Linked DNA regions of Homo sapiens. The protein of the gene in region 6 purifies or fractionates together with the protein of the main gene of each other region. This does not show direct contact. Each region holds a gene or a part of one and is shown on either strand. Other genes may lie near its edges.

Region 1 (3,500 bases), on a different chromosome or scaffold from region 6:
TCCCAGCTACTCCAGAGGCTGAGGCAGAGAATTGCTTAAACCTGGAGGGGCAGAGCTTGCAGTGAGCCAAGATCGCGCCACTGCACTCCAGCCTGGGCGACAGAGTGAGACTGTCACCAAAAAAAAAAAAAAAAAAAAAGGAATCATTTGAGTGAAAGATAGTTTCTTGAAGATGGTCAGTGGATGATTGAGGTTTGGGAATCATGGGCCTCTGGCCCTAGTTGGATTTGAGCAGTGCCTTTAGGGTAGATAGGACTTAAAAAGACAGAAAGGGACAGGCTTTGCCTTACCATGGGTACTTTTACATATGCTCTTTGGGTAATTTTTTTCTTACTCTTTCTTTATTTTTTTTTAATTTATTTTTTATTTTTGAGACGGAGTCTTGCTGTGTCGCCCAGGCTGGAGTGCAGTGGCGCCATCTCGGCTCACTGCAAGCTCTGCCTCCCGGGTTCACACCATTCTCCTGCCTCCGCCTCTGGAGTAGCTGGGACTACAGGCACCCACCACCACGCCCACCTAATTTTTTTGTATTTTTAGTAGAGACGGGGTTTCACCGTGTTAGCCAGGATGGTCTCAATCTCTTGACCTCATGATCTGCCCGCCTTGGCCTCCCAAAGTGCTGGGATTACAGGCGTGAGCCACTGCGCCCGGCCTCTGGTCACAGTTTTTTAGAGATTGTTTGGAACAGTGAGTAGAAGGCCTTGTCTGTACAAGATACACAGCTGAGTGAGATTGTTAATCTGTCAAAGGGCAAAATTCAAAACTTTCGACAGTCTGGAAGGCTGGGATGAATGCATTAAGATGTAATTCGACTGATATAAATTTAGATTTAAAACAACCTTCTATAGTAGTTTGGCTGGGGGAGACAGACATGGTAGAAACTCACAGGAAAAGGACTTTGTTATTTTACATTACATAGAGGCTAGATGCTCATCTTCTCTTGGGTATATGAAAGCTGTTGATTTGCATACTTTGATTTTCTATCCTGCCGCCTAACTGATTTCTTTTTCTGTTTGCATTAGTTTTTCATTGATTCTTTAGGGTTGCCAGGCGTACTGTCCTATCAACTGCAAATAGAAATGACTTCTTTCCCGGTTTTTATGCTCTCATTCTTTACTCTGTCTAACTGCCTGGGCTAACACCTCCAGTTCTGTGTGAAGTAATAGAGTGGGCAGCCTTGCTATGGCCCTGATCATTTGTTGTTGTTTTGTTTTTTTTTTTTGAGAGGGAGCCTCACTCTGTCTCCCAGGCTGGAGTGCAGTGGCGTGATCTCGGCTCACTGCACGCTCTGCCTCCCGGGTTCCAGCGATTCTCCTTCCTCAGCTTCCCGATAGTAGATGGGACTACAGGCGTCTGCCACCACGCCCGGCTAATTTTTTGTATTTTTAGTAGAGACGGGGTTTTGCTGTGTTAGCCAGGATGGTCTCGATCTCCTGACCTCGTGATTCGCCGGTCTCGGCCTCCTAAAGTGCTCAGATTGCAGGTGTGAGCCACCGTGCCCAGCCTAATTTTTTGTATTTTTAGTAGAGACGGGTTTTCACCATGTTAGCCAGGATGGTCTCAATCTCTTGACCTCGTGATCTGCCCGCCTCAGCCTCCCAAGGTGCTGGGATTACAGATGTGGGCCACCATGCCCAGCCCTATGGCCCTGATCTTAATGAAGTGTTCCCCACTGAGTAAGTTGCCAGCATTAGGGCTGAAGTATACAGAGTAGCATGTTCAGAAAGGAGCCATCAGTTTCTGTTTTCTGGAGTGTTTTTACCAAGAATGGACCAAGACTCCTTAGATAAACAATAGCACTAGTGTCCATACTTACTGACCCAAACACCATTTGCCAGTTTATAAAATAATAAATTCCAGAAATATTACTGCCTCAACATTATGAAAATCAGATTTCCTAAAAAAGTACTTAGCAGTGTTGAAATATCTAGACACTATTCACGGGTACTTAATGAACAAGGCACGTGCTCAGTAGATTGATTGCCGTCAGACACACAGTTTTTCTCATTTGGGAAAGTTAGTTATTCCCACATCAGCCAAATACAGCACAGCATACAGTGGTCAGTAGATCATCAGCTTACTCCTGGTCTCCTGTTGTGAAACGCTCTCAGATGAATTGTTCTTGTGCCATGACACACCAACGTGGCAAGTTCCTCAGTTGCCTGTTTGAGCTTGTTTCTTTCTTTACTTGTGGAAGACAATTTCACTGGCGTTTTTTGTTTTTGTTTTTGTTTTTTGAGACGGAGTCTCGCTCTGTCATCCAGGCTGGAGTGCAGTGGCGTGTGCGATCTCGGCTCTCTGCAACCTCCACCTCCTGGGTTCAAGCAATTCTTCTGCCTCAGCCTTCCGAGTAGCTGAGACTACAGGCGCTTGCCACCACACCCGGTTAATTTTTGTATTTTTAGTAGAGACAGGGTTTCACCATATTGGCCAGGCTGGTCTTGAACTCCTGACTTGGTGATCCACCCACCTCGGCCTCCCAAAGTGCTGGGATTACAGGATTGATCCACCGTGCCTGGCCTCACTGGCCTTTTTTAATAGTGTATGTCTAATGTGGAACAGACCCATAAGTTGCTTGGGTCTTATTTATTTGGCTGGGAAACTATGGATTTTTTTAGAAAGATTCAAGTCCTTGGAAGCCTGTGTCTGTCCCTTATGGGAATTAGATACTGGCAGAGGAGGTAACTGTGATTACAGCATCGAAGACAGGTTTTGCATTGTGGTGACACATTTGTGTTAATATTATTCATCTCATATGAGAGGATGAGTTCATCTTAATCTCATTTTTAATCACAGCCTTCTAGAAAATAGAAATATCTTTTCCTCCCATGCTTTAAAACACCTGTGGCACTTTGGGGTGCTAAATATTGACTTCTTTGGCCATCTTTTCAGGAGGAAGACATGGGATACTCCTGACTGGGTAGATGCTTTTGTATTTCTGCTTAACCTCATAATTAATTTCATTCCAGCTGGTGGCAGGAGACAGACTAGAAAAGGAGCTACCTTTGGAAGTATATTTGCCTGGTTATAGGAGACTTTTGTGAGCTCGCTGGAAATGAAAATATACTAAGCAGATCTAAGACATAGGGGATAATTGGCAACATTTATCAGTTACCTGAAGAATACTTAATTCACTGGTTATTAACTCATTCCCATGGCCCAGAGGCCTTGCACTGCCCTCCCCCCCAGGCACATACGTGCACACATATTTGCAAACACGGCATGGAGCGTCTTTCCCCTGTGCTCACTAGAGAGGCCACACCAGCCTTCTCGTGCTTCCGTAAACCTGACATGCTTTTTTCCATCTTAGGGTCTTTTTACGTTCCGCTCCCTCTGCCTGGAAGCCTCCTTCTCTGCCTTCTAGAAGGTCACTGCCCCATAGTCATTCAGGTCTGGCTCAGACGTCACCTCCCCAGAGAGGTCTGCTTTTCTGACCACTTCATCTAGAGGCCCCCACCGCCCATCACGCTGTGTCCCATTACCATGGTGTGTTTTCTTCC
Region 2 (3,500 bases), on a different chromosome or scaffold from region 6:
GGTTATCAGTCAGATTTTCTCGAAGGAAACTCAATAATCACACATAGTGCTTTCCTTGGTGAGATTGGGAATGGTATGAATTCCTATCTGACCCTGATTATTTTCAGAAAATAGCAGGAACGCTGTAGCTTCCTATCTCAAAAAAAGAGAGGGTCCAAGATACTATAACTTTAGGGGCATCCCCCCATGCACATACATGGAAGGGCGGCACAAGCATTCTTCGATGCTATCAAACATAGTGAAGAAACAGATGCTGTGAACAGCCCTTACTGTCAAGTACTGATAGGTGTGTATTTCTAATCATTGGGGTGAAAAGTGAGTATCCAGAGTACTTAGAAGAGATTACTCAAGTATTTCCTTATAAACATCAACAGTTTTAAAGTCCAGCTGACTACATTGGCTCAACTCAATATAGAAAATTAATAAAGAAGTCCACAAAATACCTTCTGGCTTTAGACTATCAGTAGGATAATGGCAATTTGAGCTTCATATTATCCATTGATTACTTATATCACACTATATATCTGGCAGGGAAGGGATGGAGACCTTTACATTTGAAAAAGCTTTTTTAAAAAATAAAACAACTTATTTTAGAATCTTCTTGTATTGTCTTCAATAACAGAAGGAATAGAAGACAGGGTGGTGATGGTATATCCAAATATATTTAAGTTTATTTTAGAGCCAGAAAGGACCCAAAGCAGTCATGTGCCTGCCTTTTGCCCTCCGCCCCATCTAATCAACATTCTGCAGAAACCACACAAGATTAAATTGGTAATAGTCTCAAGCCAAACATTTGTATGTGTAGTCTAATAAATTAACATATTCTTATATGTTTTTTGACTGTATCTTTGCATTGTCCTTTTCAGTTATATTTTTTTCCTTACTGAAAGCTTCCCATCCTTTTCTGCTACAGGATTATAGCTGGACAGACATCCGCTGCCCCTTTGAAAAACGAAGAGATGCAGCATGCGTGTTTTGGGACAATGTAGTATACATTTTGGGAGGCTCTCAGCTTTTCCCAATAAAGCGAATGGACTGCTATAATGTAGTGAAGGATAGCTGGTATTCGAAACTGGGTCCTCCGACACCTCGAGACAGCCTTGCTGCATGTGCTGCAGAAGGCAAAATTTATACATCTGGAGGTTCAGAAGTAGGTAAGGACTTCTTAAGTATTTTGGTTTGGGGCATATGCTTTAAAGCCAAGTATCTTGGCTTTCATATTTAAATAAACAGCTGGTATTATTTGTCCAGATACTTTCTTGGTAATTTAAATATGTGTTTGTCACATTTTAGAGCTCATCTCCCTGAAGGTTTATGTCGTTGCTTTACAAACCATTAAATTACAGAACTTTAGCTTCCTAGATTAATGGCCCATTTTTTTTATCATAATGAAGCATTAGTTGACATTATCTGAATTATAGTTCTAAATTATTTGGGCTGCATAATATTATTTGTTTTAAAGATTTCAGAGTTCAACTTATAGACTCTTTAAGAACTCGTTACTATATTCAGGCTTTTAAAATTTGTATTATATTTGCTTTCTTTTTATTAGAAAAAAGAATGCTCTTTTTCATTTGTTTTATTCTTTAAGTTTTTAATGACTGTAGTGGTATTTATGCTTATTGAGCAGAATGGGATGTGGGTGTGGATATAAAAACCTTATTGGATAGTGTGTTAGTGTCCAGTAGTGCTCTTTTTCTAAATGAATAATTTTTCTAAATGAATAGGTGCAGGCTAGATACATAATAGCTTTTGTATGCTTTCATTTTCAAGTAATTTCTTTAGCTTAAATAATGGGCTAATAAAGAAAACTAGGGAGACCGTAAATGGTTATACTTTTGGTCTGCATACTTATGTTTTTACCCTCAACTATATGTCAAATGAATACAAGAAAAATCACTATTTCCTAAATGTAACCATTTCCTCTCTTTAAAAGCATTCTTCACAGACTGTTATAATGTAGAATATTTCAAATACAATAAATCCTAAAGATGATAGACGGTAACTGTTCTGTGGTACTGCAGATAACTTCATTTCTTCAGCCTTTGCTAAGTGTGTTTTTAGCTTAAGTAGTAGTTTTTTTTTAATCTACTATATACTATATATTTTCCTATAGTGTCCACCCACTGAACCTACCAAATCAGGAATGTTTAAAAAGTTAAAAATAAGTTATTTTTGGTCATGACCATTGCTTCTTCTAGTTGTTATTTTCTGATCTTTACTTTTCACAGACCTTAGTTGCAACGCAGAATTATAAAGGTGTTGTCGTTTTTAAATCATTTGATATTAGCCCAGAATGGTGGGAGATGAGAAATAGTTTGGTAACTTCTAAAATTTTTTGTCCTTGGGAAGGAAAAAAAAAAGCACTTAAACTTTAATAGTATCATTTCTAAAATTTTTTATTGAACTCCTACAGTGTGTAGAAGTTTCAAAACATGATGAATGTATGTTTTGCCTTTAAATTGTGTAATCAAAATACATCAGAAATATACATCAATATTTTGAGAATATACTCAAGCAGGGACCAGTGTGATTTCAGGATATACCACACTAACTGAGAATAGTTAGGAAATATAATTTTGTTAATGGTGCTGTAGCTATTCCAGAATATTAAATAAGAATATGATCAGATAGTAGTTTTCATATTTTAAGGTATGGGTCTACCATCTGTAAGGAACTATTATGCTTTTCCACTTTATATAAACATTTGAAGTATGGATAATTCCCGTCATGCATAATGGGGCTTGAAGACATATATAAGGCTTCTTATTTAATTTTTCTTTTGAAATCAAATTTATTTTTCTAAAGTTTAATTACCAATAAATAAGTATTTCCAACAGATCCTTTTAAGGATGTTTTCCAGGGTCTATACAAACAGGATTATTAGCGTTTTCTTAAACTATTCCTACACTTTGTTGTTGTTGATTGAGTATGAAAATGGCCGTATGACCCTAAATTCTTCCTTCCTTAACTAATAAGATCTACAGTCAGTTCTTTCCAAACCCCCGCACACACTAAAGTTAAGCATGATGGGGCCTTTTTCTTTTACAGGAAACTCAGCTCTGTATTTATTTGAGTGCTATGATACGAGAACTGAAAGCTGGCACACAAAGCCCAGCATGCTGACCCAGCGCTGCAGCCATGGGATGGTGGAAGCCAATGGCCTAATCTATGTTTGTGGTGGAAGTTTAGGAAACAATGTTTCTGGGAGAGTGCTTAATTCCTGTGAAGTTTATGATCCTGCCACAGAAACGTATGTATCTATTTAAAATTTATTTTACAGTTAACTGTATTCTATAAGCTCTGTAGGAGATGTCAAAAGACCAGAGGAACCCAACAGAAGAATTTTGTCCTTGAGTGAAGAGTGTATATAAACTTTTGAGTGTGCTAGGGTCAGTGGCATATTTATGACCTGGACCTTTCCCTTACACCAGAAATGGCTTGAACTTACACCCCATGGGAACCTCTTTCTTTCTGGTTCTGCGTGCAATAAATGCCTA
Region 3 (3,500 bases), on a different chromosome or scaffold from region 6:
TGCAAAAAAAATTACGGATTTTCTTTTATTTTCTTTTTTTAGTTTTGTTGACTGTATAGGTAATGTAAGCACCACCGTTAACATTATCCCAAAGAGTCCTCTGCCTCCAACCTAAATTCCCTAATGCTGCACCTTTGTAGTGAGACTCTCTTCCTACACCTAACCCCTGGCAACCACTGATCTGTTTACCATCTTCCTAGTTTTGCCTTTTCCAGAATGTCATAAAAGTGGAATCATACATTGTGTAACCTTTTTTTCTTTTTTTTTGTGAGACGGAGTTTTACTCTTGTTGCCCAGGCTGGAGTGCAATGGCACAATCTCAGCTCACAGGAACCTCCTCCGCCTCCTGGGTTCAAGCGATTCTCCTGCCTCAGCCTCCCGGATAGCTGTGATTACAGGCATGTGCCACCATGCCCGGCTAATTTTGTATTTTTAGTAGAGATGGGGTTTCTACTAAACCCCATCAGGCTGATCATGAACTCCTGACCAAAGGTGATCCACCCGCCTCAGTATCCCAAAGTGCTGGGATTACAGGCGTGAGCCGCTGCACCCAGCCCCACATTGTGTAACCTTTTGAGTCTGAATTTTTCACCTGGCATCATGTTTTTGAGATTCAGGCACACTGTTGTGCATGTTAGGATGTGGTACATCCTTTTTCTTGATGAAGTAGTTTGCCATTGTATGGAAGTATCACAGATGGTTTATCAAAGAACATTTGAGTTGTTCCCGGGTTTTGGCAATTATGAATAATGCTGCTGTAAACACTTACCTACAGGTTTTTGTGTGAGCATAGTTTTCATCTATTCTGGGTAAATACCTAGGAGTGGGATTGCTGATTCATGTAACTGTATGTTTAACTTTATAAGAAATGGCCAAGCTTTTCCAGAGCAACTCTACGGTTTTACATTCTTACAAACAGTGTATGTGAGTTCTGGTTGCCCTGCATCCTCACTAATACTTAGTATCGTTAGTTTTGTTTGTTTTTAAAACTTTAGCCATTCCACCAAGTTCTTTGAGTAAAGCAATGTAATCACCTCAAAGTAAAATAGTGCCTTTTTAATGCTAACCCATGCTCACATGAATTAGGAAAGCCTGGAGGTGGTGTTGATCCCAGAGCCTAGGTATAATACGGAATTTATATTTGACTCTAATATCTTTATTCTCCTTCATTCTTTTTTCCCCACAGTATTTCTTTTTTTTTTTAATTTTAACACACCATTGCTTGCTTGAAGAGCCATAGTATCTCTTATTTCCTGTGGAGTATGCATTCTGAAGTTGATTATAGACGGAAGTGCCATTATATAGCACATTCCCTGCCAATTCAAGTTCTCTCTTCCTCCTTAATGGTCTCTGTTCTAATCCCTTGAGATATGGCTTTCTAGAACTTGGAAATAACTTGTTTTGTTGTTAGAAAGCTAGACATATTGTTCATATACTTTGTTTATTATCCTGATTAATTCCTTATTGGAACATCTTATATTGTCAAACTGAATACTTACCAGTTCTCAGATACAGTGCTTTGTAAAGCCTTGATAGTCTGTCATTGGACGTTTCATCAGTTGCTCATGGTCTAAGGTTCTGTAAGCTAAATGTGAATGGTATTTAGGCTTATACTTTTTTATAAAATTCAGTTTTAGGGTTTGTCTCGTTCTCTAGCGGTGATGTTGTCTACCTCTTTACTATCTTAGCTCTTGTAAAACTCTGAGTTACGGTTGTTGACACATTTAAATGGCATTTGGATTTTCTCTTCAGTAATTATTATTCTCTTTAGTATCTTTTTAATTTGAGAAATAGCCTGTTGAAAAAGATCTGTAAGATTTTTTTATTAGGTACCACTTTGAAATTTTTTTTAAATATATTTTTTGAGACAGAGTCTCGCTGTGTTGCCCAGGCTGGAGTGCAGTGGCACGAACTTGGCTCACGGTAACCTCTGCCTCCCAGGTTCAAATGATTCTTGTGCCTCAGCCTCCCGAGTAGCCGGGACTACAGGTGCCCACCACCATGCCCAGCTAATTTTTGGATTTTTAGTAGAGAGGGGGTTTTGCCGTGTTGGCCAGGCTTGTCTTGAACTCCTGAGCTCAAGCGATCTGCCCAACTCAGCCTCCTAAAGTGCTGGAATTACAGGTGGGAGCCACCACTCCCGGCTCCACTTTGAATTTTGATTTGAAGAGTAATATATAGTATTTGACACTGAGAAAAACTGCATTCAACTGTTCTTCATCCTTGATGCTCCTATAGAAATAGTTGTGAAAAAAAGAATCATGAGAAAGTGCCAAGGAGGATTGACACACCTGACCAGATGGCACAGAGGAGCACGGGGTATAAAACAATGCAGGGAGGAGGCTGGGAGCAGTGCACTTGGCATATGTGAGCTGCACTTCATAGGCACTGTTAGTAAATGATATATCTTTAAGTTTAGAGTATTGAGATTTGGGGTATCTTAAAATTTCTAATTCTGTGACTTTTAAAATTAAATGATATGTAAGCTTCCTTTTTGGAGTTGGCTTTCTAGTAAAGAGAACTATCCTTCACTATGGCATAACCTCTGAGTATAAAACTCATTTCCCCAACACTGTTGAATGTAGAAAAGTTCTCTAGGATCAGTTTAAATGTCAAGGTGAAGTTCTAGAAAGGAGCCCTTCCTTAGCACCTCCACCCCTCATCATGAAGCCTACTTGGTGGCAATAACATGCATAATAATTGGCTGTAAGATGTGTTCCTGTAGCAAAACTTTTGGCTGCTTCTCAAGATTCGAATCTGGGCTTCTGGTTCTCAGAAGCTCCTGACCCAAGCCTTTGGGGTGGCAGGCGCACCAGACAGGACCTGGTTGCTTACTTCTTGCATTCCAGCTGGACTGGTTTCTATTCATGGTAGATGCTCCAAATTAGTTCAGTGACAACTTCACCACAGGCGTGGTGGGTTCATTTAAATATGGGTCACTCCTTGACCCCAAGGTTATGTTGTTGAAATGATTATTGCGCCCATGTGCTGGAGTATCATTGATTCACATCATTGGCTCTCAATCTTGGCAGTGATTAAAAATCACCTGGGGACCATTTAAATATCAGGATGCCCAGGTGGCATCCAAGGTAATTATCTGAGAATCTTGCAGGATGGGAGTCAGGTGGCAGTGTTTTTAAAATTCCCCAGATGGTCTGGTGTGCAATCAGTGCTGAGAACTAATGATTCAGAACCATTTCCTATTGTATTCCCTTCCATTTGACTATTGTGGTGTGTGGTGTCAAGTGTGTGCACCTTGCTTATGGAAACCACATGGAAAATCGTAATAGCAATTGCCCTAAGTCTAGTGAGTTTACTCAGGTTGTCTCTTATTTTGCCCCAGGACTTTTTTGAAGGAAATATAGATGTGAATACAGTTATGAGTACAATTGAATAGCTAAGTATGCACACATATACTCAGTGTCCACATGTACGCACATTTCTGTATGAATATGTGCAGTGAGACAAAATACCATTCAGCTTTTGTTTTGACTTTGCCT
Region 4 (3,500 bases), on a different chromosome or scaffold from region 6:
AACTCTTATGTGGATTCCAGATTCTTTTTTTTCCAGGTATGTCTTATAATTCTTTAGTGTATATTTTAATACATTTATTTACCAAAATATAATAATGTTTGTCAGTTAAATTTTTTTTAATAAAAAAGGTTAACTCTTAAAATTATATATTTTTGAACTTGGAAGATAGATAACTTACTTTTAGTGGTCTTTAACATTTGGTAAAGAATTAGCACATTTGTTTATACTCAGATTTTAAAAACTAACTTTAGATTATTAATGACTTCCAGTTTGCTGAGTGGGAGAATTTCAACACTTCGAGATGAAACTGGTGCTGTGAGTATAATAATAATTGATACATATTCCTAAATTAATGCTTATAGTGCTTGGTCCTAACATATAGTTACTCTAAGAATATAGGAGAACTGATATTTTAATAATCACTGAATGAAAGTGGCATAATTTTATTTCTTGTCATATGTAGTTTTTTATAATCAGAGAAGATCCCTAAGTAGGGAATACTATATATGGCAATTTAAGTATTCATGATTAGAGAGATTGTAGGATATGAGCTTACATTGGCATTAGAAGAAATTTTTTTAGATCAATAATTGAAACTTTAACAGTAAGTGGATAAATGTAAATATTCTAATATTTTTATATTAGAATATAAGAGGTTAAATTAGTAAACTCCTACAGTTTTTTATTTTATTTTGGAGAATAACCTTGCGAATTTGTTTATACAGCATTGGTACAGTGAGGGAAGGAAAGAATTGTAAAGTTTCAGTGCAAAAAAATTGGTTTATCCATTTGGAGGCAACAAAGTGACCAATGGTATTTATTTGCTGTGGTGAGATTTGCAGATGAAATAAGGCAACAAATGCAGATATGTCCATGTGAAATTATAAAAAGTTATCAATAATAAGATCTCCACAAATCTGTGATGTCTCTTCGATTTTTGATGTGCTCTAATGAAAACAAAAGAAAATTTATAAAGCTTAGAAGAATCTCATTGATTGTATATATATAGTTGATCATAGTAGGAAGAGTTTTATTACTGGCTGCCATTTCCCTTTCTAATTGATTTACATAAGCTTTAAAAGATGTTCCGTTTTTATGGCCAGATCTTTTGTAAATGATTCAAAATAGGTGTTGGTATAAATTTCCATAAAAAGTTATCAATTATGGGCTGGGTGGGGTGGCTTATGCCTGTAATTCCAGCACTTTAGGAGGTCGAGGCAAGTGGATTACCTGAGGTCAGAAGTTCAAGACCAGCATGGCCAACATGGTGAAACCCCCTCTCTACTAAAAACAGAAAAATTAACCCGGCATAGTGGCAGGTGCCTCTAATCCCAGCTACTCAGGAGGCTGAGGCAGGAGAATTGCTTGAACTTAGGAGGTGGAGGTTGCAGTGAGCCCAGATCGTGCCACTGCACTCCAGCCTAGATGAGAGAGCAGGATGCTGTCTCAAAACAAACAAACAAACAAAAGTTACCAATTATGTATTTTACATTTTTAAGCAATTTGTTTTCCTCTTATGTATTCTGTGGTGCTTTAGTTTAAAAAAAAAAAATTGTCATTACCTTTCCCCAGCTCTGAAGGAAATTGAGATTAGTAAAAGTATTATGAGAATAGTATTCTTTTCCACTTTTGACAGCAGTGTGCAGTATTTACTTTTCTCAAGTACCCCTGTGTGCATTATTAAAGTACATTGTAGTTTTAATGATTGAACAGTATAAGAAAGTATTATTTATTCATGTTTTCGAAGTATTAATTGAATTCTAGACTGTTTCAGATAAAAATGTTTCCTCAGGTGTCACTTTTACCAAAGGTATCAATACAAGTGATTTTATTAGACAAGATTTTTTCTATGTATTAAAATATCAGTTTAATAATAACTATTCAGAGGAAGAAAAAGACACCATCTCAAGAAAAAGACACCATCTCATGAAATGCACACAGACTACATTCCAATTTTAGAAACATTAAAGTTTAAGAGTGGAAACAAGGAAATGTAGTATTTAAGTAATTAAGACTTCATTCCCTATTAGTGTTACAGATATTAAAGTTAAAAGATTAATTTGTAATTTGAAAATAAAACTGTTCTCTTTTTTACAGATATTTATTGATAGAGATCCAGCAGCATTTGCACCCATTTTAAATTTTCTTCGGACAAAAGAACTAGACTTAAGGTAAGAAATGCACTCTTTTTAAAGTAAATTCTTACTGATAAATATGTGTTTTTAATATGTTTTATGAAATAAAAGGTTTTTTTTGTTTGTTTTTTTTTTTCCTTGAGTTGCAGTCTTGCTCTGTTGCCCAGGCTGGAGTGCAGGAGTGCAGTGGCATGATCTCTGCTCACTGCAACCTCCGCCTTTCAGGTTCAAACAATTCTCCTGCCTCAGCCTCCCGAGTAGCTGGGACTGTAGGCACATGCCACCATGCCCGGCTGATTTTTTGTATTTTAGTAGAGAAGGGGTTTCACTGTGTTGCCCAGGCTGATTGCAAACGCCTGAGCTCAGGCAGTCTCCCCGCCTTAGCCTCCCAAAGTGCAGGGATTACAGGAATGAGCCACTACGCCCAGCCAGAAAAGGTTTTTTTTTTTTTACTAAGACTTTGATTAAAAGTTTCCTCACACTGAAACTGGATGTGGTGGTACACGCCTATAATCCCAGCTACTCTAGAGAAGAAGCTGAGGCAGGAGGATCCCTTGAGGCCGGGAGTTTGAGGCTGCAGTGAGTTATGATCATGCCTCTGGCCAGTACTGCTGTACTGTTAACACAAATAGTTTCGAAATAGAATAAGAAAGTTTGAAGCTTTTTTTTTTTGAGACTGAGTCTTACTCTGTCACCCAGACTCACTGCAATCTCCACCTCCCGGGTTCACGCCATTCTCCTGCCTTAGCCTCCCAAGTAGCTGGGACTACAGGCACCCGCCACCACACCCGGCTAATTTTTTTGTATTTTTAGTAGAGATGGGGTTTCACCGTTTTAGTCATGATGGTCTCCATCTCCTCACCTCGTAATCCACCCGCCTTGGCCTCCCAAAGTGCTGGGATTACAGGTGTGAGCCACCGCCCCCAGACACAAAGTTTTAAGCATTTTTAATGTTAAACTAGTCATAACCAGTTTCACAAATAAAAACAATTTAACATAGTAATTGTATATATTTATCAAGGCTGGGGAATATTTTTAAAATAAGGACAAATTACAACTGAAACCTAAGATGAATTATTAGTATTATAAGTTCTGAATCTTCCATTTTTTAAAAATTTTATTTCATGTTACTTAACTTTACTACTATGAAGTAGCATCATTTCATCTGGATAACATAGCCCTTCCCAAGGCTAGTCTTTTTTTTTTTTCTATTTTATTTGTTCAACAAATATTTATTACATAACTATTTTATACAAGCACTATGCTAGGCACTGTGAGGTATACAAACATAGATCAGAAATAGATCATGCTCGCAGGGAATTTATAGTGTAATTGGGGAGATTAAGATAGATATGTATAGAAATA
Region 5 (3,500 bases), on a different chromosome or scaffold from region 6:
TACAACTCAGTGCCATTAAGTACAGTATATTTGCAATGTTGTACATTGTACTCATTTCCAGAGATTTCCAGAAATTTTTTATTATTCCAAATAGGAATTCTGTACCCATGAAATAATAACCCCTAGAGTCTTTCCCCTCATCACCTGCTAACCTGTATTCTATTTTCATCTTATGAAGTCCTTTCTAGGTATTTCACATAAGAGCGATCATACAATGTTTGTCTTTTTGTGTCTGGCTTATTTCAATTCATTTGGCACAGTGTTTTCAGAGTTCATTTATGTAGTAGCATATATCAGAATTTCATTCCTTTCTATGGCTGAATAATACTCCATTGTATGTATATACCACAATTTGTTAATTTATTCTTATGTTAATGGACATTTGGGTTGTTTTCATCTTTTGCCTATTGTAAACAATGCTACTATGAACGTTGGTGTACAAATATCTGAGTTCTGCTTTCAGTTCTTCTGGGTGTATATAAGTACCTAGCAGTGGAATTGCAGAATCATATGGTAATGCTGCATTTAACTTTTTGAGGACTCACCATACTGTTTCTCACAGCAACTGCATTATTTTCCATTCTCATTATCAATGCACAAGGGTTCCAATTTCTACACATCCTTGCCAACAGTTTATGTAGCAGCATATATCAGAATTGTTTTTGCTGACACTCGTTATTTTATTTTTTGTATAATAGCCATCCTAATAGGTATCAAGTGATATCATCTGGTTTTTATTTGTATTTCCTAATGACTAGAGAAGTTGAGAATCTTTTCATGTGCTTATTGGCCAATTGTATGTCTTTTTTTGGAGAAATATCTATTGAAGTCTTTTGCCCACTTTTGAATTATTGGGTTTTTTTGTTGTTGTTGTTGAGCTGTAGTTATTTAGATATTCTGGATGTCAGTCCTGTAAGAGATATATACTTTACAAATATTTTCTCTCATTCTGTGGGTTGTTTTTTCATTTATTCATAGTGTCCTTTGATGCAGAAAAGGTTTTTAATCTTGTTGAAGTCCAATTTATCTTTCTCTTTTCTTGTTGTTGCCTGTACTTTTAGTGTCACATCCAGTAAATCATGGCCAAATCTGATATGAAGATTTCCCCTATGTTTTCTTTTCCTTTTTTTTTTTTTTTTTCTGAGACGGGAGTCTCGCTCTGTCACCCAGGTTGGAGTGCAGTGGCGCGATCTCGGCTCACTGCAAGCTCAGCCTCCCGGGTTCATGCCATTCTCCTGCCTCAGCCTCCCGAGTAGCTGGGACTACAGGCGCCCGCCACTAAGCCCGGCTAATTTTTTGTATTTTCTAGTAGAGACGGGGTTTCACCGTGTTAGCCAGAATGGTCTCGATCTCCTGACCTCGTGATCCGCCCACCTCGGCCTCCCAAAGTGCTGGGATTACAGGCGTGAGCCATCGCACCCGGTCTCCCCTTTGTTTTAAGAGTTTTACAGTTTTTGGCTCCCAGTATTTTTATAAGATTCTCTCCACAGTTGTTAAGTTCCCAACTTTAATTTTGAGATCTAATCTCTCTAGGAGTGAAATGAATAAGGAAATACTATAGCGAAGACATGGTAGAGAATATCACATTTTACTTTTTTTTTTTTTTTTGAGATGGAGTCTTGCTCCGTCACCCAGGCTACAGTGCAGTGGCGCTATCTCAGCTCACTGCAACCTCCACCTCCCGGGTTCAAGTGATTCTCCTGCCTCAGCCTCCTGAGTAGCTGGGGTTACAGGCGACTGCCACCACACCTGGCTAATTTTTGTATTTTTAGTAGAGACGGGGTTTCACCATGTTGGCCAGGCTGGTCTCGAACTCCTGACCTCGTGATCCACCTGCCTCGGCCTCCCAAAGTGCTGGGATTACAGGTGTGAACCACCGCGCCTGGCCACATTTTATTATTTTTAAGCTTAACCATTTTCTAGATTCTTATTGAAAGCAGTTATACACTGGATGGGATCACAGATATCATCTGGTTCAGCACCTTCATTAAAAGTAGATGAAGGCTGAGACTCAGGTTTCAAAGGAATGTAAGAATTTTATAACTTGTTGCTAATACTTTAAAAACTTTCAGTAAAAATTATCCTTCTATTTTCTCATTTAATAAAAAAGTATAACCCACCTTTTAGTCTCTTTAACCATAATACTGTTTTCTATTTTGTAACTCATCATGTAGTAGAGCATGCAGAGAGCTCTGGACTGGGAGTTAGGAGGCCTGGATTTTAATTCTGCTTCTGCCATGACATATGTAATGTTTGAAAATGAGGTTAGGAAGTAGCTGATAAAAGATAGATGGTTAGATGATTTCTAATATTCCCTCTGAGAATCAGTTGATTCTATGATTAATGGCTTTATTAATATCAGAATTACTGAATTTAATTAATGGTAAGGAGAATGTTATTTTTGAATGGGAAGGTACCAGCTCTTTCAAATGAGTTTTAATGTAATCAGTTTTTATATTGTATGTAGCTGGGTCATAGGTTTTAAAAGTTTTGCCACTTAATTAGCACTTTCTTTGCATCTAGATTTGCAGATGATTATAAAATTGCGATTCAACAGACTTACTCCTGGACAAATCAGATTGATATTTCAGACAAAAATGGGTTGTTGGTTCTACCAAAAAATAAGAAACGTTCACGACAGAAAACTGCAGTTCATGTGCTAAACTTTTGGTGCTTAAATCCAGCTGTGGTAAGCTCATCATGTAAATGGAAATTTTGTCTTCTTGCTCAGTACCAGCATTTTAATAAATGTGGTTGACTCTTTTAAAGATAGTTGTTTGTTGTTGTTGTTGTTGTTGTTTTGAGGCAGGGTCTTGCTCTTCACCCAGGCTGGAGTGCAGTGGTGCAATCTCAGCTCACTGTAGCCTTGACCTTCCAGGCTCAAGCGATCCTCCCACCTTAGCTTCCCGAGTAGCTGGGACTATAGGCATGTGTCACCATGCCCGGCTAATTTTTGTATTTTTTGTAGAGACGGGGTTTCACCATATTGCCCAGGCTGGTCTCAGACTCCTAGACTCAAGCGATCTTCCTGCTTCAGCCTCCCAAAGTGCTGGGATTACAGGTGTGAGCCACTTTGCCCAGCCTCTTCTAAAGATAATTTTATTTATCTAATGTTGTTTTCTTTTAGGCCTTTTCAGATATTAATGGCAAAGTTCAGACCATTGTTTTGACATCTGGTACATTATCACCAATGAAATCCTTTTCGTCAGAACTTGGTGTTACATTTACTATCCAGCTGGAGGCTAATCATATCATTAAAAATTCACAGGTTAGTTGTTGTTTTTTTTTTTGGAAGGCCTTCAGTGTTTCTACTTCAATATAACTATGTAAACAAGTTAGAAGATACCTGAAGTGCCAGCAAGTAAATCTTGGTAGGAAATTCAACATTCCAGTTTTACAATAAAAGAAAATCTGTCAGCTACTTAATGATGTGTCAACAGAAGGAAATAATCCAGTCACTTGGGATGCAAAAGGCTGTATTTCAGCTTCTTCTTCTAAGT
Region 6 (3,500 bases):
CTTACTGCAACCTCCGCCTCCTGGGCTCAAGTGATTCTTGTTCCTCAGCCTCCCGAGTAGCTGGGATTACAGACACCTACCACTATGCCTGGCTATTTTAACTATTTTGAAATAACTTTAAAATTACAGATAAATTGCATGAATTATATGGAGACCTCCTGAATTCACTTATACTTTTTACTTGAATTCACCAGTTTTTAACATTTTGCCACATTTGCTTTTATTGTTTCCTCTTCCGTCTTCCCTCCCTCCCTCTTTCCCTTGCATTATGTATGTGTGTGTCTGAAACCATTGAGAAAATTTAACCCTGAATACTGTTAGGTAATTTACAGTCTATATTCAAGTTTCATAATTTACTGTGGTTCATACTGATAACTCTTAATTCCAGTCCCAACTCTATAGGGTTATCCTTGGTTTTCCCTCTTTTCTGTATCTGTTTACCTCACTTCCAACAACATCAATACGTTTACTTATTCGCCCAGTTGTCTACAGTACACACAGAATGGTTTCAGAATTGCTTCATCCATACCTCTGTGAAAAAGAAACCTACTAAAAGGAGTTCGGGATTTGCTAATAGTTATTTTTCCCTTAGACTAAGGTTGTATAGTGAATTTATTCTTTGCAGTTTACCCAAATTAGCTCTCCCTTTAATCTTCAGCCTCCTGGTGTTTTATTCCCTCCCTTTATTCTATACCCCATTTGGATAATCAGTATCATTGGCATCTTGTTTATTCATCCTTTTATTCTTGGGGTTTTTTTTTTTTTTTTTTTTTAAGTAAGTGGATGTGGTTTTTTTTTTTTTCTCTCTCTCTCTCTTTTTTTTGACACAAAGTGTTGCTCTGTCATCCAGGCTGTAGTGCAGTGGTGTTATCGTAGCTCACTGTAGCCTTAAACTCCTGGGCTCAAGTACTCCTCCCACCTCAGCCTCCCAGCTAATTTTTTAGTATTTTTTGTAGAGGCAGGGGTCTTGCTATGTTGAACAGGCTGGTCTTGAACTCCCGGCCTCAAGTGATCCTCCTGCCTCTGCCTCCCAAAATATTGGGATTACAGGCATAAACCACTGTGCCTGGCCTTTTTGTTTTTCTTTATAATTACCCTCTTTGGTCATCCACAAAAGATAATATAGCATACATGTATTCTGTACCTTGCTTTTTTCACTTAGTGTATCCTGGAAATAGCTATGCTGTCATTTCACAGAGATCTTCAGTCATTTTTTTTTTTCCCAGCTGAAGATTACTCTGTTATTTGGATGTATCATAGTTTATTCAACCAACTTTCTCCTACGTTAGGTTATTTAGGTAGTTGGCAGTATCTAGCAATTATACATAATGCTAAAATTAATAACTTTATGCATATGTATTTTTATATTATTGGAGGTATAACTTTAATTTTTATTTAAAAATAACTTTATTTGATAATCTTTTAAAAAATCCATAATATAATTTCAGAAGAAATTTCTCCTGATTTCCCCTTACCACATTTTAGAATATAAATAATGCAGAAGGATCTGTTTATTTTTCTTTGCAGCAGTTCCTGACCAGTCCATGGTGAGAAATATCAGTTGGCACTTAATTGCACCATAATAAATTATACCCAGTAAGGATGATTTTTCAGGTCTCCGTGCATGGGTTATGGAGATTTTCCATCATGCATCTTTTTCTGCTGCAATTATAGGGCCTGTATATACTTATGAGAATTGGAGCTAATATCAAAGACAAAAAATTGTGGGGCCCTTTCCCCGACAGTCCACCAAGTTTTGAGGAAAAGAAGTATCAGTTGAAATAGCTCTGAAGAATTTATCTTCCTGGTTCTGATAAGTAGATCTCATGGTCTCTGATTTAACAGTACATATAGATAAGATTTTTTTTTTTTTTTTGAGACGGAGTCTTGCTCAGTCGCCCAGGCTGGAGTGCAGTGGCACGATCTCGGCTCACTGCAACCTCCGCCTCCCGGGTTCACGCCATTCTGCTGCCTCAGCCTCCCGAGTAGCTAGGACTACAGACGCCCGCCACGACGCCTGGCTAATTTTTTTTTTTATATTTTTAGTAGAGACGGGGTAGATAAGATTTTTTAAAAACACAGTGTAACAACTTGAACTTTGCCGTGCAAACTCTGTAACCCACTGTCAACATAGTTCTGTATTTGGGCATGGATCATTCTGAAGAAAAATGGAGCTCAAATTTTTAAAAAATTCTTAAAACTTGAAGACCTGTCCAGGTGTGGTGGCTCACGCCTGTAATCCCAGCACTTAGGCTGAGCCGGATGGATCACTTGAGGTCAAGAGTTCGAGATCAGCCTGGCTAACATGGCGAAACCCCGTCTCTACTAAAAATACAAAAATTAGCTGGGCATGGTGGTGCACACCTGTAATTCTAGCTACTCAGGAGTCTGAGGCAGGAGAATTGTTTGAACCTGGGAGGCAGAGGTTGCAGTGAGTCAAGATCATGCCACTGAACTCCAGCCTGGCCAGTAGAGCAAGGCTATCTCAAAGAAAAAAAAAAAAAAAAAACCAAAAACTTGAAGACCCTCAGTACCTGGGCTCTTAACTGACCCAACATATTAATGTACATTCAGAGCTCAGATATAAGTGATATTCAGTCACATCTCAAATGGTCAAGGATATATAGTGTTTGGCATCAAGACCTTGAAGCTCACATTTGCTAGCAGAAAAATCTCAGTTCCTTTCATCGGGTATGTGTGCAGGAGAGTATCTTTAATTTAAATTCTTAGAAGTGGGATTGCTGCATAACACATTGATTTCAGTTGCTATGGGTCAGGAGTCTGGGCTTGGCTTAACTGGTTCTTCTGTGTAGGAGCTTACAAGGCAGCAATCCACGTGTCTGCCGGGCTGTGTTTTCACCTGGAGACTTGACTGGGGAAGAATCTGTCACTCATATTTCATTTTGTTTAATTGCAGTTGTAGTAGTGAGGCAGAATTGTTTTCACTGTGGCTGTAGGACTGAGGGTCTTAGCTGCTCTCTGTTTGTCAGTTGGAAGCCTGCCTCATCTCCTAGAGGCAACCCACAGTTCCTTGTCTTTCCCAAAAGGACCACTTCATCAAGCCAGCAAGGAGGGTGTCTAGATCAAGCAAGCTGTCAACCGTCTTACAGTGTTGAACAGTCACAGAGCTGGGTGTCAAGGCTCATGTCTATAATCCCAGTACTTTGAGAGACTGAGATGGGAGAATCACTTGAGGCCAGGAATTCAAGACCAACTTGGGCAATGTAGTGAGACCTCATCTCTACTAAAAATTTGAATATTAGGTGAGGTGGCATGCACTTGTATAGTCCTGGCTACTCTGGAGGTGGATGCCTGGCAAGGGGATCATTTGAGCCCAGGAATTCAAAGTTGCAGTGATAAGATTACTGCATTCCAGCCTGGGCAACAGAGCAAGACCCTGTCTCAATAATAATAATAATAATGACAATCACAGGAGGGACATCTCATCACCTTTGCCATATTCTGTTGGGTAGAAACAAGACATGGGGACCAGGAGGTAG
Region 7 (3,500 bases), on a different chromosome or scaffold from region 6:
AAAAAGTCTAGCTAATAATTTGCAGAGTAGGTTGTATTAGAAAATGTTCTAATAACTCAATGGAATGGGGCTATTGATTTGAAGTAAAATCTGGTATATTACAACATCAAAGATCTCCTATTATGCAAAACAAGTTTGAATGCACCTCATGTGTACTTGGTGTTTTTTTTTTAATAGATTTTAATTTGTTTCATTTTATACACTTGAAAAGTTTACTCCCTTATTTGATTCAACATATTTGCAAAATCTGCCAACAGTGTAAATGTTGAAAGTTCTAGATGGGGTTTTGAAGAAAGGGCCCTGGGTTTAAACTCAGTCTTGATGTATTATCAGCACCATTTAATAGCTAGTTGTTTGACTTCAGGTATGTTTCCTGCCTTCTCTGAGCCTGTGGTTTCTCAGCCATAAAATAGAGCTGATAGTACCTGCTCTACTACCTCACAAGATTTAAAAGAAAAAAAGATAGTGTAGGGCAGTGGTTCTCAAAGTGTAGTCCAAGGAGCCACTGGAGGTTTCATGGGTCAATAAGGATCTCCCTTATGTAAGAACAGATTCTCAATATACTTGAACCAAAACAAGAGATGACAACAGATTGAATGCAGAATCAGATAAGAGAGTCCAGCTGTATCTGTTAAAGCCAGATATTAAAGAGGATTGCAAAATGTAAATTAATATCACCCTTCTCACTTGTTTTTGAAAAATTTTTTAGGAAAAAATATGTTAATATGTAATGGGTTTATTGCTATTTTAAATATTTTAAAATTTCTTTTAATTTTGAATATAGTAAATATTGATAAATATAACCTATATAAACAACAGCTCTTCACAATCTCTAATACTTTTTTTTTGAGATGGAGTCTCGCTCTGTAGCCCAGGCTGGAATGCAGTGGTGTGATCTCGGCTCACTGCAACCTCTTCCTCCCAGGTCCCGGTTCAAACAGTTCTCCTGCCTCAGCCTCCCGAGTAGCTGGGATTACAGGCACACGCCACTGTGCCCAGCTTTTTTTTTTGTATTTTTAGTAGAGACGGGGTTTCACCATGTTGGCCAGGCTGGTCTTGAACTCCTGACCTTGTGATCCGCCTGCCTTGGCCTCCCAAAGTGCTGGGATTACAGGCGTGAGCCACCGTGACTGGTCTGTAATACTTTTTAGAGTGTGAGTGGATCTTGAGACCACAGCTTTTTAGAACTGCTGATAAACAGTAATGGTTGAGTAGGGCTGCTCTGCCTATGGAGTAGCCATTCTTTTATTTATTTTCTAATAAATTGCTTTCGTTTAAAAAGAACACAATGTTGGGGGAGGGGGTAATGGTTGAATAGTTCCTATCAGGACAGTTTCCTGCAGATAACTATAAACTTGATACACTTTTTTTTTTTTTCCTTTTGAGATGGAGTTTCGCTCTTGTTGCCCAGGTTGGAGTGCAGTAGCGTGATCTCAGCTTACCGCAACCTCTGCCTCCCAGGTTCAAGCAGTTCACCTGCCTCAGCCTCCAGAGTAGCTGGGATTACAGGCATGTGCCACCACACCCGCTAATTTTGTATTTTTAGTAGAGATGGGGTTTCTCCATGTTGGCCAGGCTGGTCTCGAACTCCCGACCTCAGGTGATCTGCCCGCCTCTGCCTCCCAAAGTTCTGGGATTACAGGCATGAGCCACTACGCCCAGCTGATAAAAGTTTTAAAAATTAATAGATGGCATTTGAGAATTACAAAAACTAGATTGAGGTCTGCAACTGGAAGAGGAGAACAGCAATGAATAAGCTTCTGTTTTTATGGCTTTTAGACTGGCATAAGGTCCCAGCTGGTGATATGAAGAGGTGGCTACAACTGTAATAACAACCTGTAATCTCTCTTGAAGAAAAGAGGACAGAGCTCACAGTGATCATGCAGCTGGAAAGTGCAGGAGAAAATCCTAGAAAGAATGTTGGAGTGGCAGAACCCCAAACACTGTTTATAAACTCTGCTTGAATTTCTTGCAAACCCCTCAACTGTACATGTGTGGAGCAGCCTCCAAACAGCACACTTAAGGCTAAAGGAGCAGAGATTTCAGCTGCTGTCCACCATAGGGGAGGCAGAACTTGGAGTTTAAGTCCAGCTAAGGTAATTGTCTGCAAAAAACAAAAACACAAACACTCTTTGGAAGAATATTACAGAATCTAGAGTGAATTGTATTAATCACAATACCTAGACTATAATCCAGAAACAATCACCCTAATCAGTGGAGACTGACCCCATAATTAGCCAAAGGTTGGATTTAGCAGAGAAGATTTAAAGCAGCAGCTATTATAACTATGCTCAAGGATGTAAAGCAAAATGTTGTATATGTGAACAAATAGGAAATCTCAGCAGAGAATTAGAAACTTTAAAAAAGAATGAAATGAAAATTTTACATCTGAAAATACAATATCTGAAACAATCTTGAATAGATTTAACAGATCAGATATGACAGATAAGTCATTTAATTTGAGGATAGATTAATAGAAATTATCTAATCTGAAGTAGAGAAATAAGTTATTGTATATGAAAGTTCTCTGTAAACTTCAGTGCTCTATGTAAGTTTCAGAGTTTATTACTCCAGGTTTCTTTCATATGTAAAGGGAAGAGGTATGTTTGGGTCTTCTGATCTGCAGCTTCCTTAATGTCCTGTCCTGTCATGTCTGTGTCTAAGCTTTATACCCTCTGGTTTCTTTATTTTTATTTTTTTATTTTTTTTTGAGACAGAGTCTCGCTCTGTTGCCCAGGCTGGAGTGCAGTGGATCTCAGCTCACTGCAACCTCTGCCTCCTGGGTTCAAGTGATTCTTCTGCCTCAACCTCCCAAGTAGCTGGGATTACAGGCATGTGCTACCACACCTGGCTAATTTTTGTATTTTGAGTAGAGACGGGGTCTCACCATGTTGTTCAGGTTGGTCTCAAACTCCTGGCCTCAAGTGGTCCACTCACCTTGTCCTCCCAAAGGGCTGGGATTACAGGCGTGGGCCACTGCGCTTGGCCTAGCCTCTGGTTTCTAATATCCCCTGCAGTCAGATATTTGGCCCTTGCTGCTTTCCTGTACTATTGTCAGAGGTTACCAGGAATCTTTTGGTCAGTACACTCGACATGTTTGTAATGGGCCTCACCCCCATGTTTCTCTTCAGTGTTTTGCACCATTGCCATCTCCTTTCTGCAAGGTCATTGCCTTTCCTCAATGACGATGTTTTCTTTTTTCTCCTCCTCTGTCTTATTTTGTCTTTTCTGTTTTCCAAAGATTCATTCTTAGCTTTTTTCCCTCTTATTTCATTCTACTTTTTAGTCTACTTTATTATTTTCATACTTGGTTACTTCAGCCTTGTCGTTTCAGAGGCCTCTTCTCCCTCTCTGGCTCTGCTCTCTCTAGAGCCCTGTCCTGCTTCTTGTCCCCGCTGATCACTAAACATTTCTACTTAGATACCTGGTAGACACTTGGAGCTCAGAGTGTCTGAAGTGAAACCCCTATTCTTCTTCTTCTTTTTTTTTTTTTTGAGGTG

Evidence for each region.
Region 1: the proteins of CARNMT1 (region 6) and TAB1 purify together in Homo sapiens (affinity purification with mass spectrometry; 4 studies listed by BioGRID and IntAct, with this or other methods). This does not show direct contact.
Region 2: the proteins of CARNMT1 (region 6) and KLHL7 purify together in Homo sapiens (affinity purification with mass spectrometry; 3 studies listed by BioGRID and IntAct, with this or other methods). This does not show direct contact.
Region 3: the proteins of CARNMT1 (region 6) and MAP7 purify together in Homo sapiens (affinity purification with mass spectrometry; 3 studies listed by BioGRID and IntAct, with this or other methods). This does not show direct contact.
Region 4: the proteins of CARNMT1 (region 6) and KCTD3 purify together in Homo sapiens (affinity purification with mass spectrometry; 3 studies listed by BioGRID and IntAct, with this or other methods). This does not show direct contact.
Region 5: the proteins of CARNMT1 (region 6) and BRIP1 purify together in Homo sapiens (affinity purification with mass spectrometry; 4 studies listed by BioGRID and IntAct, with this or other methods). This does not show direct contact.
Region 7: the proteins of CARNMT1 (region 6) and ZBTB25 purify together in Homo sapiens (affinity purification with mass spectrometry; 4 studies listed by BioGRID and IntAct, with this or other methods). This does not show direct contact.

What each region holds. Positions count from the first base shown.
Region 1 is NC_000022.11:39,406,280-39,409,779, forward strand, and holds part of TAB1 (TGF-beta-activated kinase 1 and MAP3K7-binding protein 1), read left to right. Parts: intron 1-3,500. UniProt on the Homo sapiens protein: Key adapter protein that plays an essential role in JNK and NF-kappa-B activation and proinflammatory cytokines production in response to stimulation with TLRs and cytokines.
Region 2 is NC_000007.14:23,164,785-23,168,284, forward strand, and holds part of KLHL7 (kelch-like protein 7), read left to right. Parts: intron 1-913; coding exon 914-1,154; intron 1,155-3,051; coding exon 3,052-3,253; intron 3,254-3,500. UniProt on the Homo sapiens protein: Substrate-specific adapter of a BCR (BTB-CUL3-RBX1) E3 ubiquitin ligase complex. The BCR(KLHL7) complex acts by mediating ubiquitination and subsequent degradation of substrate proteins. Probably mediates 'Lys-48'-linked ubiquitination.
Region 3 is NC_000006.12:136,540,423-136,543,922, reverse strand, and holds part of MAP7 (ensconsin), read left to right. Parts: intron 1-3,500. UniProt on the Homo sapiens protein: Microtubule-stabilizing protein that may play an important role during reorganization of microtubules during polarization and differentiation of epithelial cells. Associates with microtubules in a dynamic manner.
Region 4 is NC_000001.11:215,573,804-215,577,303, forward strand, and holds part of KCTD3 (BTB/POZ domain-containing protein KCTD3), read left to right. Parts: coding exon 1-36; intron 37-263; exon of another isoform or gene 264-269; coding exon 270-315; intron 316-2,097; coding exon 2,098-2,171; intron 2,172-3,500. UniProt on the Homo sapiens protein: Accessory subunit of potassium/sodium hyperpolarization-activated cyclic nucleotide-gated channel 3 (HCN3) up-regulating its cell-surface expression and current density without affecting its voltage dependence and kinetics.
Region 5 is NC_000017.11:61,780,029-61,783,528, reverse strand, and holds part of BRIP1 (Fanconi anemia group J protein), read left to right. Parts: intron 1-2,523; coding exon 2,524-2,689; intron 2,690-3,127; coding exon 3,128-3,268; intron 3,269-3,500. UniProt on the Homo sapiens protein: DNA-dependent ATPase and 5'-3' DNA helicase required for the maintenance of chromosomal stability. Acts late in the Fanconi anemia pathway, after FANCD2 ubiquitination.
Region 6 is NC_000009.12:75,011,294-75,014,793, reverse strand, and holds part of CARNMT1 (carnosine N-methyltransferase), read left to right. Parts: intron 1-3,500.
Region 7 is NC_000014.9:64,493,839-64,497,338, reverse strand, and holds part of ZBTB25 (zinc finger and BTB domain-containing protein 25), read left to right. Parts: intron 1-1,779; exon of another isoform or gene 1,780-2,096; intron 2,097-3,500. UniProt on the Homo sapiens protein: May be involved in transcriptional regulation.